3 separate regions of the Homo sapiens genome follow, and all the other regions are linked to region 2. Evidence: fine-mapped expression QTL. A gene starts in region 2. Each other region holds a variant in brackets. All regions are shown on one strand. Distances are between the middles of the regions. Region 1 has its middle 18 kb from the start of TERLR1. Region 2 holds the start of SLC12A7 (solute carrier family 12 member 7). Region 3 overlaps SLC12A7 (solute carrier family 12 member 7).

Region 1 (9,755 bases), 46 kb after region 2:
GCAGGGGCGGGGCTCCGCTGGGCTGGGGGGACCCCAGGCAGGGACCGACCCCCGGGCTGACCGGGAGCCCCACCCCCGCCGGCCCGCCAGGCCGCCGCCGCCCACCTGCGCCCCTCGAGGGGACCGGCACCTGCGCGCACCTACCGTAGCGGCCGGGCTCGCGGCAGTAGAGCAGAATGGGAAGCGGGTCCTCGTCAGGCGGCTCGGGCGCGGCTGCGGGGTCCAGGCCGGGGTCGGGGGCCCGGCGGGGGCTCGGGGTGGGGCGCTGGCTGTCGCCTTCCTTGGCCCCGGGCCCCGCACCCCCCGCCGCGGGGGTCACCACGAAGCGCTGGGACATGGTGTCCGCGACGGCTGCGGGGAGCGGGGACCTGAGCGCGGGGAGGGCGGGGCCGGCGGGGCGGGCGCGGGAGGCCGGGAGGAAGGGAGGGAGGCCGGGGGGGAGAGAGGGACCGAGCGCACCGCCGGGGATGGGGCCGCGCGGCGCGGGGAGGGGCCGGGAGGGCGAGGCGGACTCCGGCTGACACCTCGGCAGCGGTCCCTGCCCGCGGGGGGACCACGGCCTCGGCCCCCGAAGAACGAAGAGCGGCCTCGGCTCTCGCTGCGTGACCTTGGAGACGCCCCAGCCGGGCGACCGGGTCAGCGCGCGGTGCAGAAGCCTGAGGGGAGGAACAGACCTCGCTCTGCGCCGCCTGGAACCGACGACGACCAACCCTGGCAGCAACGCTGCAGCCCGCGGTCTCTGGCGACGCCCACCGAGGGCCGGGACCAGGGGGCCGGTGAGGGTGGAGGTCTCGCTGGCCTTTGGGTCCGTGGGGAGGGGCGCCCTGATCTGGGGCCTCCACCTCCCCCATCCCCAGACTCCAGCCCTTGGCCAAGCAGGGTTCAGCCGTGCCTGCGTGCGAGGCAGAGGCCTCCTCCTGGGACTTCCACCTGGGGAGAAAGGCCTCCGGGGCAGCCAGGGTGGAAGGCGGAGGCCAGCCTGGCTGCGGAGGCGCTGGGAGCCGCGGACCCTAGAAGTCTTGGGAGACCCCGCCTGCTCTTCAGGGGTTCCTGCAACCACCGCAGCTGCACAAATTCTGCAACTGGCTCTTTCCTCCCCTCTAATGATGCTGTTGCCACCACCTTGCGTGGAAGTATTGAGCACTTTACAATATGTATTCACAGATTCAATAAATATTTATGAATGCTAACCTGTGCCGGGCCCTGCAGGTGACAGAAGGGAACCCCTGCCTCCGTGAAGTGTAGGTTCTAGAGGGAGGCAAGGGTAAGAGCTCTGAGGTGTGGGGAGGGCCTCAGGTGACATCTAGACAGTGACTTACAGGGAGCAAGTGGTCAGCTGTGCTGCCTCCAGTCATACTCTGCCCTCGTCGTCCACGGTGGCTGCTGCTGGTCCAGCCATCACATCTGAATCCCAGCAGTAGAGTGAGGAAACGGGAAAGGTAGCTAGCCACTCCTTCGCAGAGCACAGCCTAGGAAGCCTAGGAGTGCACATAGCACCTTCGCTTATCCTGTTAGCCAGAACTTAGTCCTGTGGCCACACCTTCGTGTGCAGAAGGCTGAGAAACACGCCTCACCCATGTCTGTGGTGCTATGGATAAGAAATCACCAGAGGCTGGGTCTCAAGGGCACAGCTAACACCAGTGGAAAGACCAGGGAGGATGAGAACTCCTTTCTTCAGCACATCCTCTCACCATCGCCCCACCTCCACTCATGTGGCACCGGCAGGCATGCCTGCTCACACCTGCCCACACTGGCTCACACCTGCTGACATCTGTCCACAGCTGTTCCAGCCCACTCACACCTACTCACCCCTGTGCCACCTGCCCACACCTGTTCCCATCTGCTCACACCTGCCCACACTGGCTCATACCTGCACACATATGTCCACACCTGTTCCAGCCTGCTCACATCTACTCACACCTGTTCCCACCTGCCCACACTGGCTCACACCTGCTCACATCTGTCCACACCTGTTCCAGCCTGCTCACACCTACTCACCCCTGTGCCACCTGCCCACGCTGGCTCACACCTGCACACATCTGTCCACACCTGTTCCAGCCTGCTCACATCTACTCACACCTGTTCCCACCTGCCCACACCTGTTCCCATCTGCTCACACCTGCCCACACTGGCTCACACCTTCACACATCTGTCCACACCTGTTCCAGCCTGCCCACACCTACTCACTCCTGTGCCACCTGCCCACACCTGCTCACACCTGTTCTCATCTGCTCACACCTGCCCACACTGGCTCACACCTGCACACATCTGTCCACACCTGTTCCAGCCTGCTCACATCTACTCACACCTGTTCCCACCTGCCCACACCTGCCCACACTGGCTCACACCTGCTGACATCTGTCCACACCTCTTCCCACCTGCTCAACCTTCTCACACCTGTTCCCACCTCCCCACACCTTTTTCCAAGATGAACTTTTGAATCATTTTTGGACGTTCCCCCCAAATACATTTCTGATTTGGTTGAAAAGTCACTAAATGTATAAATAAATTTGCTGAGAACTGACATCTTTATGGTGTCAAATATTTTCACCCAGGTCCTGCACATTTTTTCCATTAATTTATGTGTGTGTATTCACATTCTTGTCACTACTGGACTGACATGTAAAAACAGGATGAAACACCTTTGGCTGTTGTGTGTTTCTTTTGTAATCTTCTACCTTGCAGAACTCTAAATCCTATTATTCAAATACATTTCCAGTTCAACCTCTCGCATTTTGCAAGGAATTTTTGTTCTGTTTTGTTTTGTTTTGGAGACTGAGTCTTGCTCAGTCACCCAGGCTGGAGTGCAGTGGTGCGATTTTGGCTCACTGCAACCTCCAACTCCCAGGTTCAAGCAATTCTGCTGCCTCAGCCTCCCGAGTAGCTGAGATTACAGGTGCGAACCACGCCCGGCTAATTTTTGTATTTTAGTAGAGATGGGGTTTTGCCATGGTGGCCAGGCTTGTCTCGAACTCCTGACCTCAAGTGATCTGCCCACCTCGGCCTCCCAAAGTGCTGGGGTTACAGGCGTGAGCCACCGCACCCGGCGTGCAAGGAATTTTTTTAACCTGTAAGTAATGATATCGTTGTCCTTTTTTGTCATTTTTACCTCTTCTGTTTTCTTTTCACCCCTTTGTTCTTGTTTTGGAATTTCCTAGAAATTCCAGGGCGATATCCAGGGCTGTGTTGCTGGTGGAACTGAGTGTGTGGCCTGGACCCAAGTGAGGGTGGTTCTGGTGTCTCCGGGAAGCACTGTGCCGCCTGGGGAGTTGAAGTGCTGCCTCTTGCTCTACCCCATGAGGCCGACCCTGGACGCCTCCCCTGAGACCCGGAGGCGGCTTGGGACGGACTTGAGGAGGAAGGAGGTCCCACAACTCAGATCCTCTCACCTCCCGGCCTTCCGCCTCCCCTGTTCAGGCTCCTCAAGTGAGAGCTCCTCCGGACTCCTGCCCCAAAGGCAGCCTGTCCCCAGCTTTCATTTCCAAATGCCCCAATATCTGCCATTCAGCCACACCCTCTGCCCACCCTGTCCCTGGGTTTGAGGCTGCCAGAAATTTGGGAGGCCCTGGAGCCCCTTAGAAGCCTCTAGCCATGCTGAGTCAGCCTGAACGATGGGGCTCACTGCGGCCACTGCCCACCTTGGCCTCCCGTGGACAGTGGCTGCATGTGTCCCGGGAGGACTGTGGTGAATGCCTCCCGAAGACAGGACTGGAGACACAGGAGGCCCAACGGGCTCTGATCGTCTGACGCCTCCGCAGGAGAGAAAGGTTGTAAGAATCCAGGTTCTTTTATGAAATGCTAAAGACAGAAAAATGCCGCCTGGCTCCCGTAAGTTCTCCACGTTGAGCAGTGGATGGGAAGAAGGACAAGGGCTGTGGACGCCGAGTGGCTGAGGACAGGGGAGAGGTGCACCGGCCACGCGCGTCCCTCAGTGGGGAGATGGCTGCAGACATCAGGAGGCTGAGCACAGGCTAACCGCTGTTCCTGCTTTATCCTCCTCTCCAGGTCTTAAATTCTGCTTCTATCACTTTCTTGTTTCAAGACGGTTTTTCCTCCCATCTTGATCTGAGTACTCCTTCATGCTTTTTGTTTATCTTGCTAAATGGAGAAAACAGTGAAGCTTATACAGTTTCCCCTGAAAACAGCCTTGGCCTCTTGGTGTCATTGTTTTCCACTGTTTGTAATGACAACTTTAATCTCTTTGACTAACAACCTACTTATAGCCCCTAATTTTTTCAGTTGTCAGTTTGCAAAATTGAGGTCTGATCTGCAAACAGTAAGACTCGCCACTTTTCCTGCAAGTTCTGTGGGGGACTGACTGCAAGGGCCAGGAGGGTGGTCTGGCCCCATGCAGGCACCTCCGCCTTCATTCTGCAGCCAGGTCAGAGGGACTCAGGGGTCACCTCCAGGGGTCACCCGCACCTGGGCTCCCATGACTTCACTCCCACCTGCTGTCAGATCCCTGGGGTCTCACCACAGACCTGGAGGCCCTCCTGGGGGAGCCTCAACAAGGTAGGTGACCAGGGAACGGGAGAGCCTTTGGGAGTGAGGAGTGATGGAAGTGCAGTGGGGAGCAGAGACAGAGACAGAGAAAGAGAGGGAGAGAGAGACACAGAGAGGGAGGGAGAGAGACAGGGAGAGTGATAGAGACAGAGAAAGATGGAGACAGAGAGAGGGAGGGACAGAGAGAGGGAGGGAGAAAAACAGACAGAGAGAAGACACAGGATGAGTGATAGAGACAGAAAGACAGAGACAGAGAGAGGGAGGGAGAGACAGAGAGAGACAGGAAGGGAGAGAGAGAGAGAGAGACAGAGATGGG[T/TG]GGAGGCAAGGGGCAGGAGAGAGGATGTTAACCCTTTCTCCCCACCATTTACTGAACTGTACGTTGGACGATGGGACGCCTCCTCCCCCTACCCCGTGACGGGGTCCTGGAGGGGCAGACTTTGGAGAGGAGCTGCTGAAGGGTGGTGGGAGAGCAGGCAGGGTGCCACCACAGCGCCACAGCGACACTGCTGCTGGGGGCTGGGTTCCATTCCCTCTGCCTCGAGATCATGGGGGGTACTTGGATTATTGTTCAGCAAACACCTGCTCTCTTCCCCCTCCACCCCTCCGAGGACACAAGCATGCTCTGCTCTGGATCAACAGTGGATCAATAATGGATTTCAAGCAGGCTGGGCTTGGCCTCTGCTGTCACTGTAAGAAACACACCCCAGGGGCCAGGCGCGATGGCTCACGCCTGTAATCCCAGCACTTTGGGAGGCCGAGGCGGGCGGATCACAAGGTCAGGAGATCGAGACCATCCTGGCTAAAACAGTGAAACCCCGCCTCTACCAAAAATACAAAAAATTAGCCGGGCGTGGTGGCGGGCACCTGTAGTCCCAGCTACTCAGGAGGCTGAGCCAGGAGAATGGCGTGAACCCAGGAGGCAGAGCTTGCAGTGAGCCGAGATTGCGCCACTGCACTCCAGCCTGGGTGACAGAGCGAGACTCCGTCTCAAAAAAAAAAGAAGAAAAGAAAAGAAACACATCCCAGGTAAGGCTGCCGGCCCCTGGAGGGTGAGAGACCTGGAGAGAGGTCTCAGCCCAGAGCACGGCCCAGAAGGGCCGATAAGCCTAGACCAGCTGGCCCTGACAGTGAGCAGGGATAAGTAACTGCAGCTCGACTTGTTACGCAGTGTTACTGACCCAACAGCAGACTGATGCACTTGTCCTGCACCCCCTTGCCGAGGTAAATCCTCCCAGGGCCTCAGCCTCCTCACATCCGAAGTTGGGAGAACAATGGTGCCTCCGCCCCAGGACGGGCTCAAGGTTGAGATGACTCAGCGCAGGGGAATTCTCTGCACACCCTGTCCTCTGTGAATGCTGCTCTTGTTCCTGACTTCCAGGACCAGGCGAAGGTGGCCCAGCTCCCTCCCCGCAGCCTGTTCCATGGCCCACGGTGCTGGGCGTGAGACTGCTCCCTGGTTCTGTGGGCTGGGCCCTCCCTCTGGGCAGGTTCTGTGGTGGGAGAGACAACAGGCTCGCTTTGTAACTCCAGCTGCCAGGTGCACACCCACTGTGTCCTCCAGCCCAGGCGCTTCCTGAAACTCCCCCTTGGTGCTCTGCAGCTTGTTTGCAAAGGTGCTACTTCGCCTGCTGAAATAAAGTGTCCCATTCAGCTCTCTACTCCCGCGTGGTCTGTTGGTCCACGATTTGCCCTTTGTGAGCAGCTAGCTCAGTGGCGTTTCCTGGAGACAAAGGCCCAGGGTTGAGGGTGCCGTGGAGACAGCGCTACCTAAGGAAAGGCGCAGCTACAGGGCACAGCCCCTTGCTGGGGGCGGCCGCCGCAGGGCCGGGCATCTGCCGACCCTCAGCCAGGTCTGGGATCACCCTCACCAGGGCCAGGCCAGTGGGGGACCTGCGGCAGACCTATAGGAGTAGGAGCTGCTCCAGGGCCCCAGCCGTTGCCCGTCCACGGAGGTCACGTTCAGGCTAAGCTGGGCAGCCCGGCCTTGTGTTGCTGGCCCCCAGCCGAGGGAGGAGCTACGGGAGGGGTTGGGGTGAGGCTGTGGCTGGGATGTGCAGTGCCCAGCGACGGAGGGTGCTGGACATGTGCCCGGCTACTGGACAGCAGCCAGGGAGCAAGTCACAACAGAAGCCGAGGGGGAGGATCCTGCATCCCCACTGCTCCAGAAGGTGCATCCAGCTGGGGCGCCCTCACCGTGCGGACACAGGGGCTCCCAGCTTTCTGTGCACGCAAGGCCACAGCAGGAGCTTCCCGGGGTCTGCAGATGACCCAAAGCAGAGTTCATTTTCTTCCAGTACCCTCTCTGCTTCTAGAACCTTCCTCCAGCCCCATTCCAGCGCTCACTCTGGCCGAGACCCCTGCCCACTCACTGGTTGGTGGCCGGCCAGCCGCCCACCCCACGTCAGCAAAGCCAGCTGCCCGTGGCCCGAGGATGTGTCCTCGCCATGTTCCTACGGCCAGTCCTCCTGAGGCCACCGTGACCCCGAGGGGTCCCGTGACGGGACAGGCAGCTGACCCAGCACTGGCCACGCGGCCACCCACTGGAACAGGATGAGAGGAAGCTCCCGGGCAGCAGAAACCAAGCCACCCTCCCCTAGTCACCCCTGCATTTGTCATGTGCCTCCTGCATCTGAGGATGCCCTTCGAGGCCCTGGGGGTGGGGGGTGGGTGTGTCCTCTCTCAGACTAAGGAATCCGTGTCTAAGGTGCGGCTGCCCTTGGGATTTTGCAGGGTGGGTGACGTGCAAAGGGTGGGTGATGTGCACAGGGTTGGGCCTAGGGTAGAATTTGGGCTCTAGGGGACTCTGAACAGAGCGGAAACGTAACATCCAGACGTTCAGGGGCCTGGCTTTTGGGTGCAGCCTCCACCTGGCAGCAGGTTCTGTTCAGGGACAGGGGCTGAGAGCTGGCGCCTGCCCCAGCCTAGTGAGGATGCCAACGAAGGCAACTTCTGCTTTTCTTGAGGAAGAAACTTGGCTTTTGACTGGCCGGATTCAATGATTTTTCTTCCCTCCGAAACATTCCCTCCTGTCACTAGACTCTTTTCTTTTTGATATCTGTTTCTTTCTTTCTTTAACAATGAGCTCAGCACAAGGGGTGTGTTTGCCACCTGTCAGGAGGCAGCTAAGGGCTTATTGTAAGAACTTCTTTTCTTCCCATGGCAGCACTGGGGGAGAGGCCATGGCTGTCCCCATTTTATAGAGGAGCAAACCAAGGGCCACAGCCGTCGGTCACCTTGCTAGGAAGAAGAGGAGGGGAATTTAGGCCCAGCAAGCCGGTGAGCGGCTGGAGCTGTCAGCTTGGTGCTGGGCTGGGCGCCAGGAAGGCCTTGAGTGCTGGAGGGGCTCTCGGTGGCCTCAGAGTGTCTCTATAACCTCCCATTCCCACTCCTGTGCTCTGCAGTAAGCTCTGGGGCTCCCCACTGGGAGGGTGGCTGTGCTCCTGCCCCTTGGGGACTTCCTGGGGGCAGAGGTCTGAGCCATCTCCAGGGCCGGCCCCTGCAGCGCTCAGTTTAGGTGCGATACAAGGGTCTGGCTAGCCAGGTGTGGGGGCCGGTCACGGGCTGAGGGTTGAGGGAACCGTAACATTTCTGGACGCGTTTTTCTGTGGAGCAGGCAAGGTGGTCTGGTCAGGGTGGTGGTCTCCCCTGGGCCGTGGCAGGGGTATGGGGACACTGAACCACAGTCGTGGGGTCCACGGCCCAGTTCCAGTAGCCAATCAGGGGCACATGGTCCTGGTTCTTACCTTGGCTCATTGAGCAGCTGTGCCCAGTGCTGTGGGGTCAGGGGTGACATCCCAGATGGGTCTCCTGGATTTGGGCTGAAAGATCAGTCTTGGGGTACCCCCAGGGTCAGGGTGCTCAGAAACCCCCATGGTGGGCCTGGCCTGCCTTCCTGGCCTGCAGCCCTGCCTGATGCCAAAAGGTCACTGGGCCAGTCCTTGCCCACGGGCCCCTCCCCACGGTGAGACCTGCCCCACTTGAAACTTGCAAACATGGAAACTTGGCGATCTGACCCATGGCCTGGCCCAGCACTGCGACCTGATCCTGCGGCCCTGTGGGCCCCGGGCTCCCCATCGAGGTTGGGTTTCTAGGCTGCCTCAGCCTGTTCCAGCGAGAGGCGCTCGGGGTACGCTGGCCCAAGCCCCGCTGAGGTGCCTCCCAAGGAGGAGCCTGTGACCCTCAAGTGCAGGGGGTTGCAGATGCCCGTGAGCTCTGTCTCCCTCGTGAGTGGCCTGGGCACTGCTGCACGCGGGTGGTGGGGGCTGTGGCCCACCAAGGATTCAGCCTGGTAAGCGGCAGTGGGTGGGAAGGATGGTGTGGGCTCACTTGAGGGTCATGGGAGTCCGAAAGACTGGGGGACAGACTCAGGCCCGGGGAAGTCACATCCACAGGGACATCAGGTGCCCCCCTTGGGCCACCAGGACCAGACACATAGCACCCTGGACTCTCATCTCACAGTGTGGATCTGTGCACACACAAACATAGACACAGATGCACACAGATAAACACACACAGAGATATACACAGAAATACACACAGACATGCAGATACACAGAGACACAGATGGAGACACACAAATATGGAGACACACACAGATACACACAGAAATAGACACAGATACACACAGACATACACAGACACACAGATATGGAGACACACACACCGACACACACACAGAAATACCGACACACACAGCCAGCTGCTCCACCTTTGTGACCCCACCACCTCCTCCAGGGGCCCACCCTGATTGACTGAGAAGCTTTTGCTCCTAATTTGCTGAAATGAAGCCACCAGCGCTGGGGGGAGTGTGGCCCCGTGTCCCTTGAGCTCCCCGTGTCCCTTGCGCTCCCCGTGCTGGCCTCAGAGACCACATGTTCTAGCTGCATGAACAGCCAGCACACGGATAAATCCGTCTCCAGAGGGTACTTTTCGTGCAGAGCCAGTCGGCTGGGCCCTTTTTCTCCCTGCAGGACACCCTGTGTCTCTGTGGGAGGAGGGCAGTGATGCGGAGTGGGGAGTCCTCCTCAATCAGATAACATTGTGTCTCCCAGACGAGAGGCCCATGAAGGTCAGGGAGGGCACAGGGCTCTCGGAGGGAGTGTCTGGGGCCAATGTCACAACCTCTGCTTCACGCCCTTTCCAGACACAAGCGCAGACACTGAGCAAGGAGGAAGGAAGCTGAGACTCTGCGGGCCCGGGGACTGGCAGGAGCTCTTGTCCATGAGTTGAAGCTGTAGCACCAGGGTGGGGAC
Region 2 (9,530 bases):
CACCCAGGCGCCAGCCCAGAAGCTCCAGTACCTCCACAGACCGTTCAGGGGAACGGCAATGGAGTCAGGAAGAGCTTGGGTGCTGGTAACTCTGTGGCCGGACAGTTTTGGACCTGGCCTGTGACCTTGTGGTGTGGACCCCACACAGAAGGCCTTTGGGAGGGGCTCCGGCTTCTGCAGGACCCCCGCCCCCAACCACCACCAAAAAGCAAAGCCTGTGCCTCCTTCCCCAGGCTCCGTGCCCATCACGGGACTCCTCGCCGCACCTCTGTGGGCTGAAGATCAGGATGTGATCAAGTGGATTCCGAAGGGCAGCTGCGTGCCCGTTACAGCCTGGCAGTGGCTGGGCACCGGGCCCTTTCTGTGGAAGTAGGAAGCGGGTCCAGCACAAAAGCGCCAGGTGCAAGTTCTCTGCCAGTTCGGAGAAATCTCCCAAGTTCAGCTCACACCACAGGGCCACCCTCAAAAGTGTCCAGAAGCCCACACCTGGCCCATGCCCTCCCGTTCTCAATTTCATGAAGGCCAGGGAGCCTCCTGACACGCCCGTAGCAGGACCTGAGTGCGCGGGCAGCGACATGGGCAGCGCTCAGCCAGGGCCACTTCCTGCTGGGCAGACACAGGCCCAGGGCACTGCTCAACAGCCTTGAGAGTAGAAGAGACAAGAAAACGAACAAGCACAAAATTCTCTCTGGCTTAAAAGCAAATGACACTTACAGTCTAAAGACAAAAGTGAACCTGATCAGCCTTGAGAAGGGGCCGGCCAGACAAGAAGAGGCTCCTTCTGAGTGCGTTCCGGGGGCGTTGCTACAAAGCTCACACAGAAAGACCACGCCAGGGCCCACACTCCTTGGTGCTTCCTGCCTCCACGGTGGTGACTGGAGAGAAGGGGCTTGGACTCACGGACCCTGCTTAGTTAGCACTTCACCTGGTGTTGAGCCTGGCGCCCCGCCTGACCACTTCCAAGATCTGGGCTGGCCTCTGTGCAGAGGAAGCTGAGACCACTCTTCGCCCGCCACGGGGACCCTGATGACGCACCCCAGGCCACCAGGCCACTGCCTTCACGGTGGGTCCCCACCCGTGTCTCCGGGTTCCTAAACTGCCTGGAGGGGATGTCTGGCCTTTCCTGCCCGGGATGGTGGGTTAGGAAGGATCTGGGGTCTGGCACCGGACTTGTCCCTGGACAGACCTCACCTTCCTTCCACTGCCAGGGAGCAGGGAGGCTGCCACCCACTGCATGAGACCCGGGCACATGCGGGCACTGCCAGCACGCGGGGTGGGGGCTGGACTGAGTCCGGACACCTTCTCAGAGACTCCGGATGGAAGGGCCTAAGAGCCTCCGGTTTCTAGAGGGGGCTGAGATCCGGGGAGTAACTGGGATTTGGAGCCAGGATGGAGGGAACAGGGCTGGGGGATTCTCTCCCCAGCCCCGTCCCCACCCCCTAGAGAAAGTGAAAGTGCTAGAAACCTCCAGATTCCCGGAACGGGGGACGGGAACACGGAGGACGCGGCCTGAGCAAGGCCCCGGTGGCTGCCCCCTCCCCAGCCAGGGCGCAGTCCTTCCTGTTCCGCCTCTGGGGGGTGGGCGGCTCCTCCAGGGTCAGGCGGGGGCAGGACGGGCCGGCCCGGGCTAGTGTTACCGGACGGCCGCGGCGCAGGGGAAGGGAGAGCGCGGGGGACGCAGGACGCCCCGGCTCCCGAACCGCCCGGGTCTCCACCGCCACCCCTGTCCCACTAGGGACCACCCAGGGGCCCGGGCTCCCTCCGGAGGCGCGCTCCAGCCCCTCCCCGTTTCCATGGCTACCAGCAGCGGCGTCCACACCTCTGCCCCCGGTCCCACCCGAGCTGACCGTACCGGGAGCCCTGGCAGGGCCCCTCGCCCCCTAGCGCTGCCACTAACGTGGGGTGGGGGCCCTCGTGGGGGACCGAGAACAGGCGGTGGGGGCGCGGGAAGGGGCGCCTCCTGTACCCCCGGCCCCGCCGCCCGCCTCCGCTCCCGGATGCCGGGCCCAGACCCGCGCTCGGGGCGCTCGGCCTTTGTCCGGCCAGGTGCGGCCGCGCTCACCCGGGCTGGGGCGCTCGGGCTCGGGGCCCTCGGGGGTGCCCGGAGCCTCCGTCCGCTCGGCAGTCTCGTCCCCGCCGCCGTCGGCGTGAGCCTCCACGGGCACCACGGTGAAGTTGGTGGGCATGGCCGCCTGCAGCCGACAGTCCCCGTCCCGGCCCGGCCCGCGCTGCGCCGCTCCCGCCGACGCCACGGGACTTGGAGGCAGGGGCGGGGTCCGACCGAGCCGCCCCGCCCCGCCCGGGCCACGTGACTTCACCTGCTTGCCCCGCGGCCCCACGAAAAGTTGGCCCGCGGCGACTTCCTGCAGGGACCCCAACCCAGGCTGCGTCTGTCTGACCGCCGCGACCCGGGACGCGGGGCTTTCGCTGCCTGCGCTCCCGACCATCGCAGAGCCCGCGAATCCCCGCTCAGTCTCCTGCACCCCCTCCTGCTCCAGCCCCCTGCCCCTCCTGCTGGAACTCCCCGCCCTCCCCGCCCTCCCCGGCCCCCTCCCCGCCTCCCCTCTTGTCCCCTTCCCCGACCCCCCACTCCTGCTCCAGCCCCCTGCCCCTCCTGCACGCCCTTCTGCTGGAACCCCTCACCCCTCCTGCACCCCCCCACCCTTCCTGCACCCCCTCCTGCTGGGCCCCCCTGCCCCTATGAACCCCCTCCTGCTGGAACCCCTGCCCTTTCTGCACCCCCTCCTGCTGGGCCCCTCCTCCTTCTGCGCCCCCTCCCGCACCCCCTCCTGTTTGCCCCCCATTTCCTGCTCCAGCCCCCTACCCCTCCTTCTTCCCCCTCCTGTTCCCCCCTGCCATCCTCCAGCACCCACCTCCCACACAGTCCGCCCACCCACTCCAGGCTGTCAACACCCGCTCAGACCCTGGGCTCCTAGCCTGGCTCCTGGCTAGCCCAACCTGGCTGCAAAGGCAACTCCAGTGGAAGGAGCCTTGGATAGCCTGGGGGTGGGGTACTCCGGAGCTTGGTCCAGCTCCAGTTTAGGGACCTAACCCAGTAGAGGGAGTCCCCCCCCCCACCCATGACAAATACCACCCACGAAGACCCCAGTCTCCTCCACACCTGCCCCAGGAGTGCCCCGCGGCCCCTGCCCTAGAACCCTCCCTTCCCTCCTTGGGAAATGTTCCAGAAGCTCACAGGGTGATGCAGGGAAGGTGGAGTTCCAGAACCCACCAGGCAGACACCAGGATACCACCGGCCAGCACCTGGCACATTTCTCAACAAATGACTCATGAAAAACGGAACAATCAGATGTCCGTCAATGGGGAATTGGGCTAAAATGCTATGGCACACAGGTGCAATGAGTCAGCCTTTATTCCTAATCACCCACAACTGCTGTACGACAACAAAGCAGAAACACAGGTGGTGTGGGCAAACACGGCCACAGCCTCTTGTCACGTGGAAAATGGGTATGGCCTGGCCATGTTTTAGCCGCTTGCCTGTCTAATCCTAAAAGGCAGCTGGAGGGGAGTGATGGCCTCCGGGCTGTGGGATCACCGGGCTCTGTGGGTTCAAGGAACGCAAGCCCAACCTCTCCAGCCATTTCCAGTAAAGCCAGTCATGCCCTGGGGTGGCCTAGGGTTCTACCCCTTTGCCCCATGGACTCTTCTGGGCAGAAGCTGTAGGCCTGGGACCCTCCTGGAACGTCGCCCATCCAGCACCAGCCCTTGCAGAGGTGGGGGTTCCTCTGGCCTGGGTGTCTGGAGCTGTGCCTGCTCCACACTCTCACCCCACCTCCCACCAAAGGGAGCTCAGGGCTGTGGATGGTGCTAGGTCAGCTGCCTCCCTGGGTCAGTGGGTTGGAAGGTAGGAAACCATCACCTCCCCAGAAGATAAAATAGTTCCCAGGCATCCTTATGAGGAGGGCTGGCTTTGCTAAAAAGATCCAGGGGGTGGGAACAGAAGTGCCCAATGGGGTCAATTATAGGGTTCACACTTAGGGTGCTGGGTAAACCCTCTCCTCAGTCACCCCAGCAGGGGCTTCTGTACATTCAACCCTGGTTGCCACCCAGCGCTATTCCCGAGGGTTGGACAGAGCTCAGGGTGGGCACGAGGCCTTCCCAAGTGATGCCAGCAGGAGCAACAGATGTGCAGGGCTCCCGTCGCACATCCAAGCTCTGCTTCACACCCCAGGACCCCAGGGCCGGCTGCCCGCCATGTGCTGGCTGTGGACCTTCAGAGGAGCTGGTTTGGAGGGTCTGTGGCCAGGGCCAGCTCCCGGACTCAGGACTCATCAGCTTCATTTTACAGAGGAGGAAACTGAGGCCCAGGAGTTTAGGGTCCTGTGGCAGCTCCGAGGGTGGTCTTCTCTGTGATTACAAAATCTTGACTAGGACCAGGGGCCATGGCTGAAGCACCTGGGTGGGTGCCCAGCCCTGCCAGGCAGAAGGCAGGTGGCTTCTCTTGTTTAAATCTTAGATCTTACTTGTGGGAGACCTCGGGTGGGGGGTGAGGTCTGCTGCCTTTTGCATTCTAATCAGGTGAGTCACGACAGGGATCAGCACCCTGTAAGCACCTGCGGGTCAAGACAGAGACCCTTGCCGGAGCCCAGAAGCCGCTGCAGGCCCCTCCCATCCCATCAGTAGCCCATCCCTAGGGGTCTGGTGGCCCCTCCCTTCGCTCTGTGGGTTTCCGTGTCCACGTATATCCTCCCACACGGCAGCCTGGGGTTAAATGTGCGTTGTGTGACTTTCAGTGCTCTCTTCCTACCCACCTCCATCCCTCTGTCCTTTTCTGTACCCGGCACCTGTTGTAGGAAGTGGCCCTCGGACACGTGGAGGTACCCGAGGCCTGGGTTGGAGCTGCATCTTTCGGTGCAGGCCTCTGCGTCTCCTGGAAGTGGGCACCTGGAGCCAGGGGACTGCTGGGATCCGGGTCCAGTCCCCTGGCAAGGCCGGGGGCTCGCAGAGGGAGCCACGCACTGTCTGGTGGTAGCTCCTCCGTCCGCAGTCGTTGGTGCTTGATGTCTGAATCGACAGATTCATGGAGCAAAATGGTGATTTTCCAGTGCGTGGTGGCTTCGTCATGAATTCACTGGAGGGAGAGGCTCATCTTGTCCGTCTGGCCATCTGGATAATGGTGCCCACAGGAAAGGCAGGGCAAGGGTGCCTCTCCCTCATTTGTCAGTTTCCACAACGGTGAATTGGTTCCCGACAATCTCCCAAGTATATTTGTACATCGCTGATGAAACACATTGGTGGGTCTCAGTCGATCACCATTAGTGCCCTTTCCAAGCATCGGTGTCCAGCTTTGCCCAGGGGGCCTCTTCAAATGCAATCTCGCATCCTTATGATGTGAGCCTGGTCATCTGCGATGGCCTCTTGGCCGTGTGCAGGGCACAGCCAGGGGAACCCTGGGATTTAGTGCGAAAGTGTAGCCGATGGTGGTTACATTCTGTGTGTAGATTCTCGAAACAGTCCCTGCTGCCTGCCACCCTGGGGTGGAGTTTCTAATGGATTAGGACGGACACCCAATGCCAGCTTCCAAGCCAGGAGGCCGCTCGTGCCCACGGCTTGGAATCAGGGCTGTGGCCTGGGAGGGCTCTCACCAGACGCAGGCTGCCTCCAGGTATCTGTGTGCCTCTGCCCACGGAGCTTCTCCCCAGGTCCGCGGGTCCCCCCAGTCCACTTCTGCTTTCCTGTTAGGGTGGGGGGCTCATCTCCTGGTGCGCCATCTGCATCCTTCTGGGCTGGGAACCTGCTGTCGGGTATCAGGCAGGGCGCACCTCCAGGGCTGAAGGATGCAGGTGGGGCTGGCAGGCAGAGTGTCCGTGGAGAGCTCCGTGTCCAGGGAAGGGGACACCTGGAGGAGGCCGGCCCTGGAGGCCCCACACTCCTTCTCACCAGAAAGCCACCCGCCTTCTGCCTGGCAGGGCCGGGCACCCACCCAGGTTCTTGCCTGTTGGCCCAGCACCCATGGTGAGTGGGGGAGAGAGCGAATAGGGCAGAGCAGAAGAGAGAGGGGAGGAAGGAGAATCGGGGGAAGGGGGAGGGAAAGGAAAGAGGTGGGAAGGGAGGAGAGGGAAGGGAGGCCCCAGTTACCCAAGGCTAAAGTGATTTTTAAAAAACAAACCTTTTTTTTTTTAAGCGTGGTGAGCCTCTCCTGGCAGGGTGGGGTATGTGGACATCAGTGGAGGAAGCAGAGTCTCCGGCCACCTGTGGGACCCACACTCTCCCTGCCCAGGAGTCCCACCAGGGCCGAGAATTCTGCCCATGGCCAGGGTGGCCCTAAAGCCCCACATCCGCCACCACCTGTGGGGGCTCGAAGGGAGCTGTGGTAGGCAGGGATGACAGAAGACCCCAGCCACAGCCCCAGGCCCATGGCTGCATCTCCCCTGAAGAAGCAGCCCTGTCCCAAGGGTTCTGCAAACAATGCCAGGCTCTTCCCAGGCAGGCACCGCAAGCTGCCCCCCGCCCCGATCCCTGGCTTGCCCAGGGCGGGGCCTCTGGGCCTGGTGGATGGTGGGCCTGGCCTGGCGCTGGGGAGCCTGTCTGCACAGTGGCCAGGTACGTGGGGTTCTGAGCCTCCCCCGGGTCCTGTGCCTGCTGGGCAGGGGTACATCCCATGGAGCTGAATCTGGGAATAGAAGGGGCCTCCCCTCCCACAGAGCTCGTCTCAGACCATCTGTGTCTGAGACTGTAAGTGACGCCAACAGAAGGTCAAGCTTGAGCGACAAAGCTCTCAGTCCTGTAATTCACGGACACTGAGTCTTCGCTCAAGTTCCCTCTGGAAGATTCCGTGGATGAGTCCGACACACTCTTCCCCTCACTCAGGAGGCTCCAGGATTTTTAGACCACGTGTGTGGCTTTCCTTCTCTCAAAGTGTAACTCACATAATGTTACTCAGAATCTCACACGGACGCCCGTGAGTTGCAGACACAGGGAAGGTTCGCATCTCCTCTGAAGTCCAAGCTGCCCAGAAGCCCACCCACCCCCCGCCAGCTCTCGTTCCTGCTCCACAGGTGACTTCTTTCCCGTGAAGCTTGGGCAAATGTTTGCTGTCGGCTCAGGGGGAAAGGCCATGCCAGGGTCCAGATGGGCTCAAAACCTCCCAACCTGGCAGACACGCAGCCCTTCAGAAATGGAAGCAGAGCCCAGGACACGATGTGGCCAATCCTCTCTCAGACGTCATAAAGAGCTGGGTTTGGAAGACGAGGCCAACCCTCATGGATGCCGCCCCCGACCCCAGCAACACCATGAGATCAGGGATTTGCTGGCTCTGTCTCAGAGCCGCGGAGGGTCCTGCTCAAACCCCAGAGCCGTGGGGATGGGCTGGGGGGCTGGTGGGGAGCGTACTGCGAGGGGCCACTGAGCAGGCTGGGGTGAGCTGGGCCTGGCCTGCGGGGGTGGGGGTGCAGCCTTCGCTGGGGAGGCAGCCAGGGAAGGGGTTCCTACCAGCCCGAGATGGAGCAACGAAGCAACTAGTGAAGCCAAGTTTGCAAAATTATCACCGTTGGTGGAAGGGTTCCGACCTGACTCCATCTTGGTTCTGACCTCCAAGCTGTCCTTGTTCCTTCCTGGGCGTAGGCTGAACTAACTTTGGGAGGAACTTAGTTTATAGTTAAAATAAACCTCCTTCTTGCCTGAGGGCTAGACTGCCTTTGTAGGATTAACAAATTAGCCACAAGATTAAAGAAATTGTGGTTTAGGAGTCATGCAGCTGGAGGCTACAAGATTCTGACCCTCCCTAAACTGCTCCTAAAATCCATGCTTGAGATGTTTTGCGGATCCTTGTTGCGCTAGATGGATCAGCTGGCACCACTCAGACCAATAGACTGGCTCATCTGATCTTGTGACCCCCACCAGGAACAGACTCCGCACAAAAGGACAGCTTCAATTCCCTATGAGTTCATCTCTGACCTGACCAATCAGCACTCCTGGCTCACTGGCTTCCTCACCCACTAAGCTGTCCTTAAAAACTGATCCCTGCCGGGCGCGGTAGCTCACGCCTGTAGTCCCAGCACTTTAGAAGGCTGAGGTGGGTGGATCACGAGGTCAGGAGATCGAGACCATCCTGGCTAACACGGTGAAACCCCGTCTCTACTAAAAATACACACAAAAACATTAGCCGGTCATGGTGGCAGGTGCCTGAAGTCCCAGCTACTCGGGAGGCTGAGGCAGGAGAATGGCGTGAACCCGGGAGGCGGAGCTTGCAGTGAGCTGAGAGCACGCCACTGCACTCCAGCCTGGGGGATAGAGTGAGACTCTGTCTCAAAAAAAGAAAAAAAGAACTGATCCCAAATGTGTGGGGAGACTGATTTCAGTAATAATAAAACTCCGGTCTCCCACACAGCCAGCTCTGCGTGAATCCCTCTTTCCCTATTGCGATTCCCCTGATTTGAGTGACAGTAAAACTCCGGTCTCCTGCACAGCCAGCTCTGCGTGAGTCATTCTTTCTCCCCTGTAATTCCCCTGTCTTGATCCATCAGCTCTGTCTGGGCAGCAGGCAAGGTGAACCCATTGGGCGGTTACATGAGGGGGAGTCCATGGGCCTCAGCCCCTTGAACAGAGAGATAAGAAGATCCCACACTGGGAAACGTTTCAGTGCAATCTGAGAACATCGTGGGCAGGCCTGGCAGCCATCCAGACCCGGCAGAAGAGTCTTCCTGGCAGCAGCGCCAGGGATTCTCCAAAAACAGGTGTGACCCAGACTCGCGCCCTCGCCAGACACAGATGAGCTGTTGGCCAAATGCGAAGGCCGCCAAAGCCGTCCTTGGGCGTGAAAGGTCTTGGGAAGTTTCCCCTTTCTAGACCGGGGGATGCCTCTTGCCAGGAAATTCGAATGAGTCCAGGAGGAAGGAGAAAGCCTGGACCTGACGTAGGCCTCAGAGAGCCTGGTCTCACCCATTTCTAATGGAACCCATTAAAAATCAGACAGTGTGGGGGACCCAGACAACAGTAAACAGCTGTGCTCATAACATCAAATGTGCTGGCCCCGCAGCCTTGCAGGTACCAAGGTTGTTTCTGGTGGCTTCTTCCAAGGCTGTGGGAGGTGTGGGCGTGTCTCGCTGAACTTCTGGGCCGGCTGGCGGGAGAGGCAGAGCTGGCGCTGACATCAGCCTCCCGGCGGGAGGGGCTCACAACCCACACTGAGCACCCAGAGCCAGACCTCCCCAGAGGAATGTTCTGGGGGAGAGGGAGGGGCACAGACGACTGCTCCCGAAAGGAGGGCCCTGCCTCGTTTTGTGGCCCCGCATCTGGTGTGCTCACCCTCAGTCTGCAGCAGCTCGAAGCCCTCCTGATGAGAGCCGACACAGGCAGGGGCCAGAGTCGCTTTTGCAGCGCTGGAAGGCTGAGTTCTGCCATCAGCTTTGCATTTTACAGCTTTCTGCTGGGATCAGAGAAGCACCTGCACAACCTCCCCTGCGTTTTCTAAACATTCAGCTGGGAACCTGGACTGCAAAGCCCGGCCTCAGTTACCGCCACTTTTTCCCAGAGCCCTTTTGGGGTGAGTTTTCTGGACTTGCTCATCA
Region 3 (9,755 bases), 27 kb before region 2:
TCCAGGCTTCCCGTCTCGGGTTCTGGAAAGCCTGGGCTTCCCATCTTGGGTTCTGGAAAGCCTGGGCTTCCTCTCTAGGGTTCTGGAAAGTCCGGGCTTCCCCGTCTCGGGTTCTGGGGAAGTCCGGGCTTCCCGTCTCAGGTTCTGGAAAGTCCGGGCTTCCTGTCTCGGGTTCTGGAAAGTCCGGGCTTCCTCTCTAGGGTTCTGGAAAGCCTGGGCTTCCTCTCTAGGGTTCTGGAAAGTCCGGGCTTCCCCGTCTCGGGTTCTGGAAAGCCTGGGCTTCCTCTCTAGGGTTCTGGAAAGTCCGGGCTTCCCATCTCGGGTTCTGGAAAGCCTGGGCTTCCCATCTCAGGTTCTGGAAAGTCCAGGCTTCCCGTCTTGGGTTCTGGAAAGCCTGGGCTTCCCGTCTCAGGTTCTGGAAAGTCCAGGCTTCCCGTCTTGGGTTCTGGAAAGCCTGGGCTTCCCGTCTCGGGTTCTGGAAAGTCCAGGCTTCCCGTCTCGGGTTCTGGAAAGCCTGGGCTTCCCGTCTCGGGTTCTGGAAAGCCTGGGCTTCCCGTCTCGGGTTCTGGAAAGCCTGGGCTTCCTCTCTAGGGTTCTGGAAAGTCCGGGCTTCCCATCTCAGGTTCTGGAAAGCCTGGGCTTCCCGTCTCAGGTTCTGGAAAGTCCAGGCTTCCCGTCTTGGGTTCTGGAAAGCCTGGGCTTCCTCTCTAGGGTTCTGGAAAGTCCGGGCTTCCCCATCTCGGGTTCTGGGAAGTCCAGGCTTCCCGTCTCGGGTTCTGGAAAGTCCGGGCTTCCTCTCTAGGGTTCTGGAAAGCCTGGGCTTCCTCTCTAGGGCTCTGGAAAGCCTGGGCTTCCTGTCTTGGGTTCTGGAAAGCCTGGGCTTCCCGTCTCGGGTTCTGGAAAGTCCGGGCTTCCCGTCTCGGGTTCTGGAGCAGGTCTCGTGTACCCTGCCAGGGGTCCTTTTCCCTCAACCCCCTGGGGCAGGTCCGAGGCAGCCTCTCATCAGAGAAGGATACACAGAGGGGGAAGTTACCGCCCAGCTACCACTCCCTTCTTAACACAGCAAGTTCCCCATACATGCTGCCAGGAGGTCATGAAAATAAATCCATAGCATTAAGACCAGCTTGCTGACCATGACGGAGGCTGTCTCCCTGCCACACCGTGTTTGGCTTCTATGGCTCTGCCAGGGGTGTGTACAGGGACCCCCAGGCTCATCAGCAGCAGCTGGGAAGGGGCTCGGCCAGGCAGGAGGAATTGGGGCCCTGAGAGTGACTCTAAGGCGAGAGCAGCCACCAGGGCCAGCGCCTGCTGCCCCCGCCACCCCCCAGCTCCAGCTGCAGCCCTGTGAGCCTCACCCAGGAAGACACCACTGGCCGCGCCCGGGATGCCCTGGATTTCGGTGACGTTGTTCTGGATGAAGTACTCGTCACAGGCGGCGCTGGGCTGGGAGCCGTTGCAGAAGAGGCCCCAGAGCGCGGAGGTGGCTGAGTTGTTGTGGATGCCGTAGGCCTTGACGCAGGCATCGAAGCTGCGCCGTGACAGCGTGCGGTTCCCCAGGAGGCAGACCCTGGGCGGGACAGGGAGGCACGGCACGTGTGCTGCCACCGAAGTGGCTTTTACTGCCCCACCCAGCTCCCCCAACGGGCACCCATGGTGTCGCCCGCGAGTGGCTCCTGGCACCCTGCACCTCCCAAGACAGGAAGGCCACAGATCACGCCAGGGACCGGGCCCAGGCCAGGCTGCAGCAGGAATGCAAGGGCCAGGGATCACACTGGGGACCGGGGACTGGGGACCAGGGACCGGGGACCAGGCCAGGCTGCAGCAGGAACGCTGTACTGTACAGCCGTCCCCTCATCCATGGTTCGGCCACCCGTGGTCCAAACGTGCTAAATGAAGCGTTCTAGACGTAAACAATTCACACGTTTTCCACCGCGCGGTGCCGAGTAGTGAGGTGGAACCCAGCAACCTCCCCCCGCGCCAGCACAGCCACGCTGCAGCCGCTCCCTCCCCGAGGCCCTCGGCGGCGTCCTGGCCGGGTCAGCTGTCACAATCTCAGTGTCTGAGTTCAAGCCACCCTCGTGCCACGTGCCAACGGCCAAGAGCACAGGAGTGCCGCCCCCGACGTATAAGCCAGGCCTGTACGTGGAAAACAGTCTACACAGGGCCGTAGCGTCAAGCATCGGCAGGGGGTCTCAGGACGGGTCCCCGAGGGGGAGGGCAGCTGTGCTTCCCTAAAACGGGCTTGTGGGGTTGCAGCTGTTCTGCCTCCCTCTGTTTTGAGGCCTCTATGAGGCTGTTCCTTCAGGGGCTCCCTCCACGCAGAGACGGCAAAACCGCGGGAGCCTCAAGGGGCTTGGCTGCTGGCCCTTTCTGGACCTGCTCCCTGCGGGCTCTGGTGGCCACTCCCATGTTCCAGGACCCTGGGCCGCCTCCCAGCTGCTCCTCCAAAAGGACAAGAAAAGAGCCCCTCCAAGCACCTCTGGGAGGGAGAAGACACCCAGGCCCCAGCAGCAGCCAGGGCCACACCCATGACGCTCACTGCACCTGACCGTGCTCAGGGCCACCGGCCACCCCTGAAACCTGCCAGACCCCTCACCAGCCCTCCTGCCACTGAGGAGGGTCTTCATGCTCAGACCCGGCCACGAGGGTACCTCGGCCCACCTCACCGTTGGGTTTCCTGTAATCCCCAGAACGAGCCCACGGGGGTTCCCGCCACGGTCACACCCAGCCCACCCCTTGCGGGGAGCTCGGCGTCAAGGATGATGGACGAGAGGCGGGCAGAGCCCATGGGACCTGGCCCCAGCCCCACACCCACCCACGGCTCAGAGGCCCCGAGACTCACGGGATGTCCGGGGGGTCGAAGGCAGACTTGATGACGCCGGCATAGATGGCCAGGATGGACAGCACGACGCAGGCCAGGAAGACCAGCGCCAGCTTGTTGACATACTTGACGCCCACGAAGACCACCAGGGCCATGAGCACGAGCGTGCACGTGCCGTACACACGCATGTTGTGCAGCATGGCGGCCGCCTCGCCACCTGCAGCCTCCGCCTGGAAGATGGCCGCACCCGGGGAGATGTACGTCTGTGGGAACAAGGC[C/A]GGTCGGGAGGCCGTCCCCGGACACAACTCCCCAGTGCCCGTCCCTCCCGCAAGCCCCCAGCGCCACACAGGGGCCTCCTCCCAACAGGTGCCGGGGCCATCGGGACGCATCCGTGCTGGACGGAGCCCGCGGGGGTCAGCGCACAGGCAAGGGACGGAGCCCGCGGGGGTCAGCGCACAGGCGAGGGACGGAGCCCGCGGGGGTCAGCGCACAGGCGAGGGACGGAGCCCGCGGGGGTCAGCGCACAGGCCATGGACAGCCAGGGGCCTGAACGTTTCCCAGGAACCACCCGGGAGCCTTAGAGTAAAGCAACTTCAGGACCCGGGGCATCCGCATGTCCGCACTCAAAAGAAACACCTTCTGCTAAGAGGAATGTGACTGCTGCCCAGAGAGCTCGGCCCACCCCGGCTGGACGTCCTGGACACACACAGGGTCTGACCACGCCGGCGGGGGGCAACCTCTGTTCTGCCCAGATTCAAGGGAAGGGACGGAGACGTGAGACAGTGCTGCTCAGCTCCCTCAAGACCAGGACAGGACTGGGGTGCAGCAGGCATGGAGGGCATGGCACCCACCCCCACCAAAGGGGATCCTGGGAGTGCGGCAGCCACGGCACCCGGGGCAGGTGGAAAGATGGAGGGACATGGCCAGGGGACTCGGGTTGGGACGGGTGTGGGTGCGACCCCACTGAAAGGTTTCAGAACCTTCTTGGCCATGTGGCTCTCTTCAGGAACCCAGGAGGCCAGGAACCAGGTCTGGCAGCAGAGGGAGGGGCAGAAAGACTGGGGACAGGGGCTCAGGTGAGCGTCTCTGAAGCCCTGCAGGGACAGCGGGTTTCAGAACCTCAGCAGGAAGGACAGCACCCGTCGGCCAGAGAAGGGCGGTTCCCGTCCCCACGAGGACCAAGGAACTCAGGCCACAGCTCTCAGCTGTGCTCAGGTGATGTGGGACATGCTTTGAGCATGCCTGTTTTGAGAAGGTGATGACATCACCTGGTTGTACATTGCTGGGCTCTGGGACCCTCGGCCAAGTGCCCAGATCAGGCAGAGAAGAGGCTGGGATCCTGGCAAAAGGTTCTTCTAAGCCGAGTTCCAGCCCTGCTCCTAAAACAGCTCCGACTGCAGGACTGCACCTACGCGGGGCTCAGATCTACAGTCCAGATGTCTACCCAGCTCATGCCAGGCACGCCTCACGGAGGGCAGCAATGGTGCTCAAGGGGGACACAGGTCGCTGCTGAGTGGACGCTGCCCAGTGGCTTCCGCCATGGCCAGAGCCCAGGAGAGCCCAGGGGCAGCCAGGGCAGTGGGGTCAGGATGGCTCAGTGTGCTGTGTGTGCCACAGAGTGGGTCAGGCAGGGCCCCTTGGCATCCTGCCACAGACTGTGGGGTGGGAACCCTTCCAAAGCAGCACACTTACCAGAAAAATCTCGATGGTCCCCAAAATATACATGGCCCCTGCAAACGTCGTGCCCAGGTAGAAGCAGAGGCCGACAGCGCCTCCAAACTCGGGTCCCAGCGAGCGCGATATCATGTAGTAGGACCCGCCAGCTGCGGAGACAAAGGCGGCAGCCGCGGGTCAGGGGCGCACTTGGACTCGGACCCGAGGTGCGGTCTGCGCTGCCATTCACGGGCAAAGGAGGGCCTGTCTCTGCGAAGGCAGCGTGTAGACCCTCGTCCACCCGCAAAGCAGCACATGGAGACGCTTCCACGGTGAACTCTCCCCTCCCGAGGCTCGGCACACGTTCCACACCAAGAGCACGCGCTCTCATGGACATGAGGACCAGGTGAGATCAGGGATAAGGCTCTCTGGGGAGCAGGAGGCCCCAGCAGGTCCCAGAAAAAGTCCCGCGTACATCAGTGGCAGCCCCAGCCCCCACTTCCACTAAGTTTTGCTTATGAAAAAGGCAAAAGAGAAACTAGGATGTTCAGGAGTCGTCTCGTGTACTGTGAACCACGCACGCTATCACTGGCGGGAAAGCCGGGCGCAACCCCAGGGCTGCCTGGAGAACACAGCTCTCCCTGCTCTGAGCAGTGCGTGTGGCATGTGGAAGGGGTCCTAATGGACGCGGCCATCGTGAAGCAGAGACTGGTCCCTTGGCTGCGGAGGGAGACCCCTGGTGAAGGCCCTCGTGCTCTCCTGAGGCCGGGGAAGTCCGCTGAGCACCAAGCGATGCCCCCGTGGGGATGGGGACCAGCTGCGTGAGGACCTGGTGCTGAGCAAGCCCAGCCGTTAACACGCGCAGCACACATGCACTCAGAAGCAGACGTGGCAGCGTCTCCGTTCACTAGTTATTTCGTATCGTAATTCGTTTATTACTAATTAACAGTATCATCTCAGTTTACTAGTTATTACGTATTGTAATTAACTTATTACTAATTAATATCATCTCGGTTCACTAGTTATTTAGTTATTATGTATTGTAATTAACTTATTACTAATTAACAAGGTCAGGGCAGTGTTTTGTCTTCACCTTCCCTCGTGAGATACAGGTTCCAAGAACTCAGCCTATGGCACACGCTGGGCTACAGGAGCCACTGGAATCGCCCGTGCCTCCCCCTCCCCAGCCCGCTGCCTGGTGGGCACTGCCTACCCTGGCAAGAGACGGTCACCACGCAGCAAAATGGGGAAGAAAACCAAACAGCCGTGACCTCACGGCTCAAACGCCAGAGGAGCCAGTGGAGAACACGCAGAAGGCCCGGCTGAGACCCCCAGGCAGCCCCCGGCCCGGCCTCGCCAAGCGGCCTCCTCGCGGTTGCCGTGCGGCAAAACACAGACTCCTCTAACAGGACTCAGGGCCGCGGCTGGCGGGCACCCCTTACCTGGGACCACACCGTTGGTAGCGATCGCACTCATGGAAATGGCGGTCAGCATTGTCTGCAAAAAGACAGGCAGCCATCTGAGGAGAGTTTTCCAACAGCCTGCCGGCATCGCAACACTCCCAAGTCAGGGTCTATGACCCGGCTCCCGCCGAATGCCAGCCCCCAACTCCAGGGCTCTCCATCTCAATGGAGTGGCTAGGAAACAGGACCTGGAGGCTCCCGGGCACCAGGCATGCGTGTCCTGGTTCCCACCCCTTCCCCTATGACAGCGACCCCTGAAAGTGCCCAAGGTCCTTCCAAACTGGAGGTGATGTCATCAAAACACAGGGTGTCCCTTCCCTTGGAAGCCTCAGCCCCCGGGTGCCGCCCCATGACACCCACCACTGGCTGAGATGCCTGTCCGCAGACACGGGTAAATGAGGTGCCAGCACGCCAGTCAACACGCCAGCACTAACCCCGGACAGTGTGGCATCTCATCCCCGCAGCTGCCCGGCTCTCGTGGAGGAGACGGCGCTGAACGACGTCTACACGGGCGTCTGGGGAGGGCCCTACTGTCCGGCTGCCACCGCCCGAAGGCACAACCACAGCGGCCAGGGGAGACGGCATCTGGGGAGAGCCCTACTGTCCAGCTGCCACCGCCCGAAGGCACAGCCACACCTGGCCGGGGGAGACTCACACATGTGCAGCACATGGCCACGATGAGGAAGGACTCCAGGACACCAGCCACCCCCACGATCCACGTCAGGCGCAGGAAGAGGATGACGCCCAGGATGTTCTGCAGGCACGGCAGGTAGACGCCGATGAAGGTGCCCATGCGCGGAGCCTGCGACAGAGCATAGCGTGTCCCAGGGGCTCGTACCCCACACCCAGAGGGAGCCCCCTCCCCAGGCTGCACTCAGGCCCTGGGCAGGCAAAGCGGCCGTGGGGGCAGGAGGGGGCAGGAGTCCTTCCCAGAACAGATGGAGGTTCAGAGAGAGGCCCAGGACAGGACCCCTGACCATCCCGGAATGAGGGCTTAGGGGAGGGGAGCAGAACCACATGGTTGGCAGAGAACCAAGATGCAGCTGCTCCGCTGTGCCTCCCCGACGGAGGGAAACCTGTTACACTGGAAAAGTTATGGAAAAAACAAGAGGGAGAACGAGAGGGCCCCCGGCTCCGTTCCCTGGATGGCTCAGGGCCTGAGATCTGACACCCTGGGAGAGCCTGAGACTTCAGGAATGGAAGCAGAGCCAGCGGAGGGATGAGACGGCTGCTGCCCATAAAGCTAAAAAAAAAAAAAAAAAAAATCCACAGCTCAGCGTCGGCCCTGGGCAGAAACTGACACATCTTAACCGGGCACGGAGGTCACCACGAGATAACAGCAAAGGTTCAGATATCCACGTGGGGGCCACCCCGCCTGCCCCAGCACGGAGCAGGCAGCCTGCTTCAGACACCTGTGCCAGAGAGGGGGACACACCCTGTGCCCTGAGAAAACCCACATGGGCAAGGGTCAGCAGCACAGCCAGGAGCAGGCCAGCGCCTGCCAGGCAGCTCCCCAGCTCCACTCGGGACGGGCCAGGCTGGGGTAGAAGTTTCAGCTCCATCCCCACTGCCTGCTCAGCCCCACTCCCGCCATGAGCAGAGGCACGTGGCTCAGACCTGGAGGACGGCTGGTGCCAGCACAAGGTGACGTTTTAACAGGAAAACGTCTCAAGGTCAATACGGAAAAGGGGGAAGGTTTTATTTGAAGACACTTCCTGTGAACAGTGGCCACAATGTGGATCAGAACAGGCCCCGTGCGGGGCTTCGATCCTGGGGTTCACACAGCCCAGGCCTGGGGAGGATGGGAACAGGGGACCAGGTGAGGGGCAGCTCCCAGGGAGAGCACGCTGAACACCACATCACAAAAGCAAACAGGGTGGCTTCTGGGGTCACCGTGCCGGAACGCCTCCCACAGACTGGCCAAGGCTGGGGCCAGGGCAGGGCTCTAGGGCTCCACCAACTTTAGGACCCTGGGAAAAATAATGTAAGAGCAGCTCGGAGCGTGGGAAGCCCTGGATCTGAGAGCCTGGGGGATTCACTTGGTTCCCTGAGCCCTAGGTGGGAAGCAACAGGGGAGCGACTTGCTTCTGACGGGGGCCCTGGAGAGGAGAGGGTGACGGGGCTGGGGGCCGCTGCTGGGCCCTCCAAATCTGGGTATGCTTTGTTCTTGGTGCAAACGAGAGAAGCGGTGGCGGATGGTGGAGAACCGGCTTTGGGACATTCTCATTGGATAAAACTGAGAGCCCAGGGCAGAGGTGACAGCAAGGCTCCAGGGACAATTGTTGCTGTGACTTCCCAGCGAGGCTTCAGCTAACGCAGGAGCCGACAGGCAGAGCTCCAGGCAGAGACGCGGTCCACACAGGGGCCCCTGCCCTCCAGGCTCAGCCTCAAATCCCGCAGCCCCGTGACAGGCGAGTCAGAAGCTGGTTCTCGGCCAAAGGCGGGGGATCCTGACTCCTCACGGAAGGGCATGGCCGGCCTTGGCCTCTTGGTTCGCGCCTAAAGGCAACTTTTAAGGCTCAACCTGACCCAATTTCAGGCGCGGGAGGCTGGAGATGCCTGGGCCCTTGAAAAGGCTCCTCAATGGGAGCAGGTCTGCTGGGGATGAGCCTCTGAGCCTGGCAAAGAGGACCAGGGGCGGCCCCTGCCCTTCCACCCCAGGGGCCGAGCCACGGTCCCCTAAGGGAGCCGAAGGAGTCACTGCCAACTGAAACCCGCCACCGTCAAACAACAGGCCTGCTGGGGTCACGGGCCCTGGTCCCTCCACGACTGAAACGCAGGCAGCATCAGCCTGGGGTACCTGCATATTGTCCCTGAGGGACAGAGGCCTGAGAGCCACCAGCCTGGGGGTAGGGTTGCCAGGGAGGGCCAGGGAGAGCCTTCCAGGTGGGAACCTCCTGGGCCCTGGCCCACAGTGTGCCATGAACAAACACACCTGCCTGGACGTTTCAGTCATGTCTCAGTACCAAGTAGGGTGAGAGAAGCTGGGGTGTGCTCTCTATGGGCACCTCATGGCAGGCTGGGCTCCATCAGGCAGAGGGGTTGGAGCTGGATGTCCAGGCCAGTGGTGCCTGAGCCCAGCCGAGCTGGAGCTAAAGCCTGTTCCCGGAGCACTCGGACCAGGCCCGTGGGAAGACACCTGCTCCCTGGAGAAAGCCAACATCTCCCTAGGACACAAACTCCAGCACACAGGCGGACAGACAGGGAAGGCCTGTGGCTCCTGAGTTTTGGTGCCAGAGTACCAGCCTGAGCCCATGAGGCCTCAAGGTAGTGCCCAGCATGCGTGAAACCCCAGAAAGGTGCTGAGTGCTGAGCCCGGCAATACCCAGTTCCACAGCGTCCACGTGCGGAAAGGTACTGAGTGCTGAGCCCGGCACACCACCACCCAATTCCGCGGCGTCCACGTGCGGCACGGCAATACCCAGTTCCGCAGCGTCCACGTGCAGAAAGGTGCTGAGTGCTGAGCCCGGCAATGCCCAGTTCCACACCATCCACGTGCAGAAAGGTGCTGAGTGCTGAGCCTGGCAACACCCAATTCCGCAGCGTCCACGTGCAGCAGTGATGGTCCCACCCCAAGGGCTGGCCGAGCTACAGACAGGGGGGGCGGCCACAAGCTCCCCGAGCCGGGAAGGACCCAGCAGGGGAACCAGAAAGAGGTCCAGAGATGCAGCTTCTGAAGAGGCCACTACCCTGTCCTGGGACAACAGCCAGGGCTGAGGGCCCTCATCAGGCCAGGCCCCACCCCAAGGTGGTCTCACGGTCACGTCCCTCGTCTCCGGTTACTTCAACCCCAGATTGAGGCTTCTCAAAAACAAAAC

Evidence for each region.
Region 1: its variant is fine-mapped to the expression of SLC12A7 in whole blood (INTERVAL, PIP 0.94).
Region 3: its variant is fine-mapped to the expression of SLC12A7 in whole blood (TOPMed, PIP above 0.99).

The regions. Positions count from the first base shown.
Region 1 is chr5:1,155,530-1,165,284 of GRCh38, forward strand. It overlaps a transcript of SLC12A7 not described here. Among named protein-coding and RNA genes, the nearest start is that of TERLR1, 18 kb to the right of the region's middle. The variant T/TG (reference allele first, on the strand shown) is at 4,820.
Region 2 is chr5:1,109,806-1,119,335 of GRCh38, forward strand. It overlaps SLC12A7 (solute carrier family 12 member 7), which reads right to left and starts at 2,258. Exons shown (of 24, transcript NM_006598.3): 1 at 2,063-2,258. The coding sequence starts at 2,186. RefSeq lists enhancers at 7,611-8,144, 9,215-9,530.
Region 3 is chr5:1,082,390-1,092,144 of GRCh38, forward strand. It overlaps SLC12A7 (solute carrier family 12 member 7), which reads right to left. Exons shown (of 24, transcript NM_006598.3): 4 at 6,593-6,739; 5 at 5,917-5,971; 6 at 4,514-4,644; 7 at 2,843-3,084; 8 at 1,356-1,567. Among named protein-coding and RNA genes, the nearest start is that of MIR4635, 24 kb to the left of the region's middle. The variant C/A (reference allele first, on the strand shown) is at 3,100.